Linked DNA regions of Homo sapiens. The protein of the gene in region 2 interacts with the protein of the main gene of each other region in a pairwise test. Each region holds a gene or a part of one and is shown on either strand. Other genes may lie near its edges.

Region 1 (3,907 bases), on a different chromosome or scaffold from region 2:
ACCCACCAGATCCTTGTAACCTGTCCAGTCCCCTCATCTCCCACACCTCACAGTGGGCCCCACAGTTCCGCCCAGCACATGGGAACCTCCACTCAGACCTCCTTCCACTGACTCCTTTTCTTACCAACTCACCTCACCCCATTCCTCTCCAAGGTACCCAACTGAAACCCCATATAGGCCTTCCCCACCTGTTTCTCCCAGCCACACCCCTCCCATGGCCTCTGCTCCTTCTCCCAGGTTCTCAGACTTCTTTTTACACTCAGACCACTCAAACTGCCCAATGCCCCACCACTCCACTTTCAGCACTGTACAAGGTGCCACCCCTCCCCTTTACACGCAACCCCTGCTACCCACCAACTCTTCCTCAGGTGCCCAGATTCCTCACGTCAAACTATATCCCTTCCCCCCAGTCAAATTTTCTCACACTGGCCTAACCCATCTCCACACCCAGACTTTGCCCACCTTAACCACTTCATGATACGCAGCCCTGTTTAATTACTTAACCTCCTCTACAAATCAAGGCCCTCTCCTACAACCCTAACCCCCTATCCAGAATACCCAGACCCATTTTCACAAAAGCCTACTCCTCCCCGCTTCGGACCTAGGCCCTTCCACCACCCTAGCTCCTGTCTCCAGGGTATCTATCCACTCTTTACATTCATCACCTCTTCTTTGTACCAAGACCAAATCGACAATTCTAATCCCCTCTGAGATACCCAGATCCCCTCTTCCCATTGATTTAAACCCTTCCTGTTCATACACAGCCACTCATTCAGGGATGCCCATACCCTCATTTTATATCAACCTATGCCTCTCTTGCAAACAGAGCCCCCCCTCAAATCCATCTCAGGAATATCCAGATCCTCCTCCACATTATTAACCTAATCTTTTTTAATTTGCTAGAAGACCCAACCCACCCTAACCCATTCTAGGGATGCTCAGACCCTCCTCTTCGTAGCAACATAACTCCTCTTCTTTGTGTAAAGATCCACACACCCATCTTTCACAATGGCTTAAGCTCCTTTTACACACACCCCTCGTGCTGCCCAAACCCCCTTTAGGGATACCCGGACCTCCTATTCTCATACAGAACCTCCATCACCACCTTAATCCAGCACAGACCCCTCTTCCTCACACTCAAGCCCCTCTCACCAGCCTCCTATTCTGGGGGTACTCAGACCCCCCAGCGTCTTAGCAACCTCTCAGTCTCATTCCAGGAATTCCCAGGCACCCCTCACTTTAGCACACAGATCTCTCCCACCCTACTTCCTCCCCTTCCAATAACCAAATCCCATCTTCACCTTGGCCTAATTACCTGTACTTAAAAAAGACTACCTTCCCCAGCTCATTCTAGGGACACCCAGACACCCTTTTAAAATACACTTAATCCTTCTTTGTACAAAGACTCCTTTCCACGCATTCCAAGGGTACCCAACCTCCTGACACATTGGTTTAAGGCCTCTTCACATTAATTTAACCCCATCCATTACAACTGGACCCCTCCTTAGCTCTAAACCGTTCCCTTGGGGATATCGATTTCCTAATGTCTTCACACCAAAACCCCTCTCACCGCCCCAATTCTTTCCAGGAAGAACTAGATATTTTTCCCCTGCATTAACTTAATTATCTTTCTCACGCCCTAAGCCCCTAACTGGGCACCCACGTGCCGTCTAACCGGCCCAGCCCCTTCGTCCTGGACTTGCCACACCACCAAGTCCTTTACCCCAAACCCTGGGGAGCCGCGGAGCCCTCTTGGGACAGCTCTGAGGCCTCCCCTTCCCGCCCAGGTGCCCCACCAAAGCCTCAGCCCGAGCCCCGCCCCTCCTCACTCAGCCCCGCACGCGACTCCAGGCCCCTTCCCCACCCGCCGCTCCAGCCCGGCCCCCGCCCGGCTGCCCGCGCGCCGGGTCGGCCGTTGGTGCCGCTCCGCCCTAACTGCCCGGCGCGCACCCCCTCAGGCCCTCAGTGCGCAGGCGACCTGGCAAGAGGAGGCCGCGGCGGCAGGGAGCGCAGCCCGGCCGGCCTCTGCGCGCCCGCTCGCGCTCACCTGCTTCCGCCGTCTCGCACGCCCCGGGCCCGGGCCACGGCTCCCCTTGCACGGCCACCCTAACGCTGCGCCCGCTCTAGCTCTCGCCGTCGCCTCTCGCCTGCTCCGTAGCCTCGCTCTCGCCCCCAGCTACCCTCAGCAACGCCCCTCCCACCTTCCTCCTCGGCCGCCGCACGGACGGCCGGACGCAACCAATCATTGCCCGCTCGGGCCCTGCCGTTCGGCCAATCGACGTTCATGTCTCTGAGGCTTGGGCCAATAGTGAGGAGCGTCGAGATTCCCCGCAGCGCCCAACCAATCCTTTAGCGTCGTTCCCTCACCGGTCAGCCCTCGGGTGGATAGTGCCCGCCCCTTTAATCCTCCTTAGAGGATGCTCCTCCTCCTCCTCGACTCCGCCTCCGACGGCTCCAGAGGGGAACTCTGAGCGGAGGGCGGCGCGATGACGTTAGGCGGCGGAGCGCGGCCGCGGGCGCCATTTTGGGGACGCCGTGAGGGAGTCAGCGTTGGGGACAGGGAGAGGGAGGAAAAGAGCCTGGGAAATTGAGGCACGCGGCACCTTGAGGGCTGGAGCGGGGGAATGGAGGCACGGGAACCTTTGTGGTTTCCCCGAGGGTCAGAGGGAGAAAGTGAAACCACTTAGCGCGATGGGGAGAGGGCAAACTGCATGCAGCACCAGTCACATGGAGAGAGAAAAGGGAAACCAAGGTTCCAGACTCACTTTATTAAAAGGAGGGGAATGAAGGCAACAGGAAGAAACAGAGAAAAGACCGAGGGGACTTTTGGGAGGTGGAGAGAGGAGAAATGTCATAGGGGAAGCAAGGAGAGCGAGGATATGGAGAAAAAGAAGCAGGGACAATTTCATTGGAAGAAATAGGGAGTGTGGTGGGTAGAGGACCTGAAGGACAATCGGGGTGAGAGCCTGAAGGAAGTGAGCCGGTAACGGGCGGACTCCACTCCACCTCCTTCCGGGGTGACTCTGACCCTTACACCTCGAGATTGGGGCCCCATGTGTCCAAGGGGCTCTGGCCATTCCTACTCACCTCGTTCCTGCGCCCCTCAGGGCCTTGGGAGGGAGTTGCCCCAGTACTGTTAGAAACGTTTCCAGGCTGGGCGTGGTGGCTCACGCCTGCAATCCCAACATTTTGGGACGCTGAGGCGGGTTCACTTGAAGTCAGGCATTCGAGACCCACCTGGCCAACCTGGTGAAACTACCATCTTTACTAAAAATACAAAACATTAGCTGGGCGTGGTGGCTCGTGCCTGTAACCCCAGCAACTCGGGAGGCTGAGGCTCGAGATTTGATTGCACCCAGGAGGCCGAGGTTGCAGTGAGCCGAGATCACGCCACTGCACTCCCGCCTGGGCGACAGAGCGAGACTCCATCTGAAAGAAGAAAAGAAACATTTCCAGACCTACTCCTTGAACCCAAACACAGAGGAATTTCAACTTATCGGATGAGGAAACTGACTCTCAGAATTGTGTTATTTATTTACTTACCTGAAGCCACTATGGGATGCGTCTCACAGTGAGACCCGGGGCCAATTCTATGGCCATTTGGTCACTAGATGTCCTAACCTTCTCATGGATTAAATTCCCTAACACCAGGCATGTATAGTTAAAACAGATTCCCGGATTGGAATCCTGGTTCTAGGGCAAGTCAACTGTCCTGAGCCTAAGTTTCTAATCTGTGAAATGGGGCTAATAACAGCCCCATTTCATGTGAGCCCCATTTCATCTCATGTGAGGCAGAGAGTAAAAGACATCTAGGAGTTACTCATTTTATTTTTATTTTATTTTATTTTATTTTATTTTATTTTATTTTATTTTATTTATGAGACAGAGTCTTTCTCTGCCGCCCAGG
Region 2 (3,907 bases):
TCAGCTCACTGCAACCTCCGCCTCACGGGTTCAAGCGATTCTTCTGCCTCAGCCTCCTGAGTAGCTGTGATTATAGGCACGTGCTACCAGGCCTGGCTGATTTTTTTTTTTTTTTTTTTTTTTAGATGGAGTTTCACTCTTATTGCCCAGGCTGGAGTGCAGTGGCACGATCTCGGCTCACTGCAACCTCTGCCTCCAGGTTCAAGCGATTCTCCTGCCTCAGCCACCCGAGCAGCTGGGATTACAGACATGCGCCACTACGCTCAGCTAATGTTGTAGTTTTAGTAGAGATGGGGTTTCTCCATGTTGGTCAGGCTGGTCTTGAGCTCCTGACCTCAGGTGATCTGCCCGCCTTGGCCTTCCAAAGTGCCGGGATTACAGGTGTGAGCCATCGTGCCTGGCCAATTTTTGTATTTTTAGTAGAGACAGAGTTTCGCCATGTTGGCCAGGCTGGTCTCGAACACCTGACCTCAGGTGATCCACCCGCCTTGGCCTCCCAAAGTGTTAGGATTACAGGCGTGAACCACCGTGCCCAGCCACTTACTCCCTCTTGATCCTTACATTATAGTAAGCAACCTCAGCTGAGAGCTAAGAGTAGGACCTGGAAGCCAGACATGAGTCAGAGACTCAGGTACTCAAATTCTTCTCCCACCCTGGGAGACAGTCTCCTCCTGCAACAGAGGATGGCCCTAGCCTAACGGGAGAGTCTGGGATGCCTATGCACAGTGGGGAGGAATGGATGGGTGGATTTAGAGTGTTCAGTGATAGGGGGTCCAAGCAAGAAGAGCTTTTGGAAAAAGGGGCTCACCCTGTGGGAGAGTGGTCTTCCCACAGGCTGATCTTGGCTGTGATGGGCATAAACATTAGTAACACACAGAATTCTATTTGAATTTCAGTTCAACTATTTGTTATGTACTTTTAGGCAGGTTTTCTGTCTGTTTTCCCTTTCTAATGGAGGCAAAACCACCCCCCCTACATAGAGTTCAGTAAGTACCAGTAACATGCTGGTACATACATGGTAGGTACTGAATACACGCTCTTGCCGTTACCTCCCTTGCTAGGCTGTTTGACCAGCCCCAGCCCACTCACTGGAGCTTGTGGAATCGTTCAAATCCAGCGGCCACATACTGCCCTCTGTTCTTCAAGTCTGCCAGGTTGGTGACAGGGTGGCCATGACAAGGTGTGTAGAGGGCACGCACAGCCAGTGGGGCCTGCACAGCTGATGTCACCTCGCAGAGGAAGGCCTCCATGGTGGGGAAGCGGCGTTGAGTCACCACCAGCTGGGAGCCTGGGAAGAATGGGTCCCCATTCCGGTACACCACTACCCTCTTGGCTGCTGGACTGCCACCTGCCATAGTGTATCCTCAGTCAGAGAAACAGACCTGTTGCCAGGCAACCAAGGAAGGGCTGGGAACATTGCCAATCAGAGGTGGAGTCCTGCCCTCTCACCCAGGAAGGCAGAGGGAGACTGTGGCAGGAGCATTTATCTGCATTCAGGGTTTTATCCCATCTGCCCTGGGGAGATCACACTTAAACATAGGTGTTACCCTACTCTCCAGAGCCTCCTTGCCACTCTAAAGCACAAGGCTGAGCTCAATTGGGGATCAGCTTTGGGAGCTGTTCCCTAAGGAGGATGGCTAGATCTTTTCCTGGGCCATGGCTCCCAGCTGGCTCCGGGGTCAATGCCCCATGCCAGTAGGAAGTGAACGGCAGGGCCCAGAATCTGTCCTGGCCAGAAGCAGAAATGAAAGCAGCCAGACTCAGAATCTAAGAAAAACCTTTATTCCCAACAGACCTCTCATTCTACTTCCCCCAGGTAACTCCTTAGCCACACATTTGTTTTTTGAGACCGTGTCTCGCTCTGTAGCCCAGGCTGGAGTGCAGTGGCATCATCTTGGCCTACTGCAATCTCCATCTCCTGGGTTCAAGCGATTCTCCTGTCTCAGCCTCCCGAGTAACTGGGACTACAGGCATGCACCACCACGCCTGGCTAATTTTTATATTTTTAGTTGAGATGGGGTTTCATTTCACCATGTTGGTCAGGCTGGTCTCAAACTTCTGACCTCAGGTGATCCACTCACCTTGGCCTCCCAAAGTGCTGGGATTACAGGTGTGAGCCACTGCACCCGGCCCCTTATCCACAAATTTGGATTGAGCTACAGGCAGAGGATTGAAAATGTGTCCTTCCTCCTTCCCTATACTCATGCCAGCTCTCTGCTCCAGCTTCTCTTGGCCCCACTAGTCACCAATGGCCAGGGGCAGGAGCAGAAGCCAGAGCTGGTCAGGGAGGTAGGATGAGGTCTTGTCTCACTGCCCTTTCATAGCATTCCCCTTTGGAACCTGATCCTCTCCTGGCTTCCTAGGGTCTAGCCAGGTGGTTCTGTTTTCCATGGCCTGCCCCTCCACTGTTCCTCTCCTGTACAGCCTGCCTTTGTAGAAGACAGAATCTCAGGTGACTTTGATCTCCATGGTATAGTCCTCTGCTTTTTCTGTCCTTCATGACTAGGCTCATTGGAGGTTCCATCTCTGGAGCTTCTATCAGTGGGGGCCTGGCCTTTGGGTGGTTTAGTCCTCCAGAGATCGAGGACACTATGCTCTGGCCCCCCCAAGGTACCATCCCAGATGATGTGGTCCTCTGAGAGGCCCAACTCTTGTGTCCTGACTGTTCGGCAGTCAGGCTCTTTGTGGTCTAGTTTTCTGGGAGACATCTCCTTAATATTTGAGTCCTCATAGAGTGCAGACAGCTGTGTCCTGGACTTCCTGGGACAATGGTTCCTAGGTTTTAAACCTCTGGGGGTCTGGTCCTCCAGGATTTTCATCTGCAGCAGGCAGGTCCCTCCAAAGGTCTGTCTTCCATCGTCTGGCCCTTTGGTGAGCCTGTCCCCCAAGGCCTGGCTGTTTGATGGTATAGACGACGGTGGTCCAGACTTGCTGTAGCATGGTTCTCTGCACTTAGCCCCAGCAATGTTTTTTTGTGTAGTGGCCAAACTTCCTGGGGATCTGTGGGGTGATTTGACCCTGTGACAGGAGTCATCCTCCTGTTCTAGCTCTCCAGTGGTCCTGTCTCTGTAGGACTGGTCCTCCAGTGGTGCGCTTGGTTGTGACTGGTCCCTCTCACAGGCCTGTTCCCCATGTTCTAGGAACACGCGGGGTTCCTCTCTGATCGGGCCCGCCTCTGGGGATCTCAGTGTTTGTTTAAGAAGTAGGTACTGTTGGGGGAGAGAACATACATTGTACCAAGCAGGCCTGCTTGGGCATGGCAGGTCGTCTCTCCCTAACCCCCACCCTTGACCCTAAATGTTCAGAAAGAGTTCCAGGTTAGTGTTACCTCCTTACGGCTATTGATGGCCTGTTGCAGCCACAGCAATTCCATGGCCAAGTGGCTGCGGTGGTACTGAAGCTCTTGAAGCTGAGGTTGGCTGTGGGGCAGTCTTTGATCTGTGGCTTCTGTGAAGGAGGGAAGAAAGGAAGGAGAAAACCTTGAGGGACCAGACCCTGGGAAATGGCCTAGCCTTAGACTTTGGAAACTCCCTCCCCTGCACTGCCCAACCATGTGGTGGCCCTATCCCGGCAGAGGGAAGACGGGAAAGGGATGCAGCTTATCTAGCGCAAGCCTTTCACTCTTCAGATGGGAGGCTGAGGCACAGTGAGGGTCAGGGGCTTGCCCTGATCTTTGCAGAGAGGTACCTGGATTCTCCATCCTTGTCGTGTCTCTGGTCTTCTCTTGGCTGGGTTTCCTGTTCTGCTTCATCTGAAGCCAGGAGCTGTGATCTCTGCAGAGGCTTCCTTGATTTGCTGAGCTCTCTCCTGACTTCTTCAGCACCATCTCCTCCCAGGTGGCCTCTCCCTCAGACTCTTCACATGGGAAGTGGTTCCACAGCCCCTGCTCTGGATTTGCTACCCTGTC

Evidence for each region.
Region 1: the proteins of DCDC2B (region 2) and ZNF574 interact in binary tests that used the Homo sapiens proteins (3 or more experiments, as listed by UniProt).

Annotation. Positions count from the first base shown.
Region 1 is NC_000019.10:42,074,427-42,078,333, reverse strand, and holds the start of ZNF574 (zinc finger protein 574), read right to left. Parts: upstream 2,169-3,907; 5' UTR 2,048-2,168; intron 1,851-2,047; exon of another isoform or gene 1,830-1,850; intron 1,789-1,829; exon of another isoform or gene 1,724-1,788; intron 1,706-1,723; exon of another isoform or gene 1-1,705. UniProt on the Homo sapiens protein: May be involved in transcriptional regulation.
Region 2 is NC_000001.11:32,206,542-32,210,448, reverse strand, and holds the start of DCDC2B (doublecortin domain-containing protein 2B), read right to left. Parts: upstream 1,361-3,907; 5' UTR 1,356-1,360; coding exon 1,090-1,355; intron 1-1,089. Other genes in the region: IQCC (IQ domain-containing protein C), read right to left, coding at 2,367-3,209, 3,329-3,447, 3,688-3,907.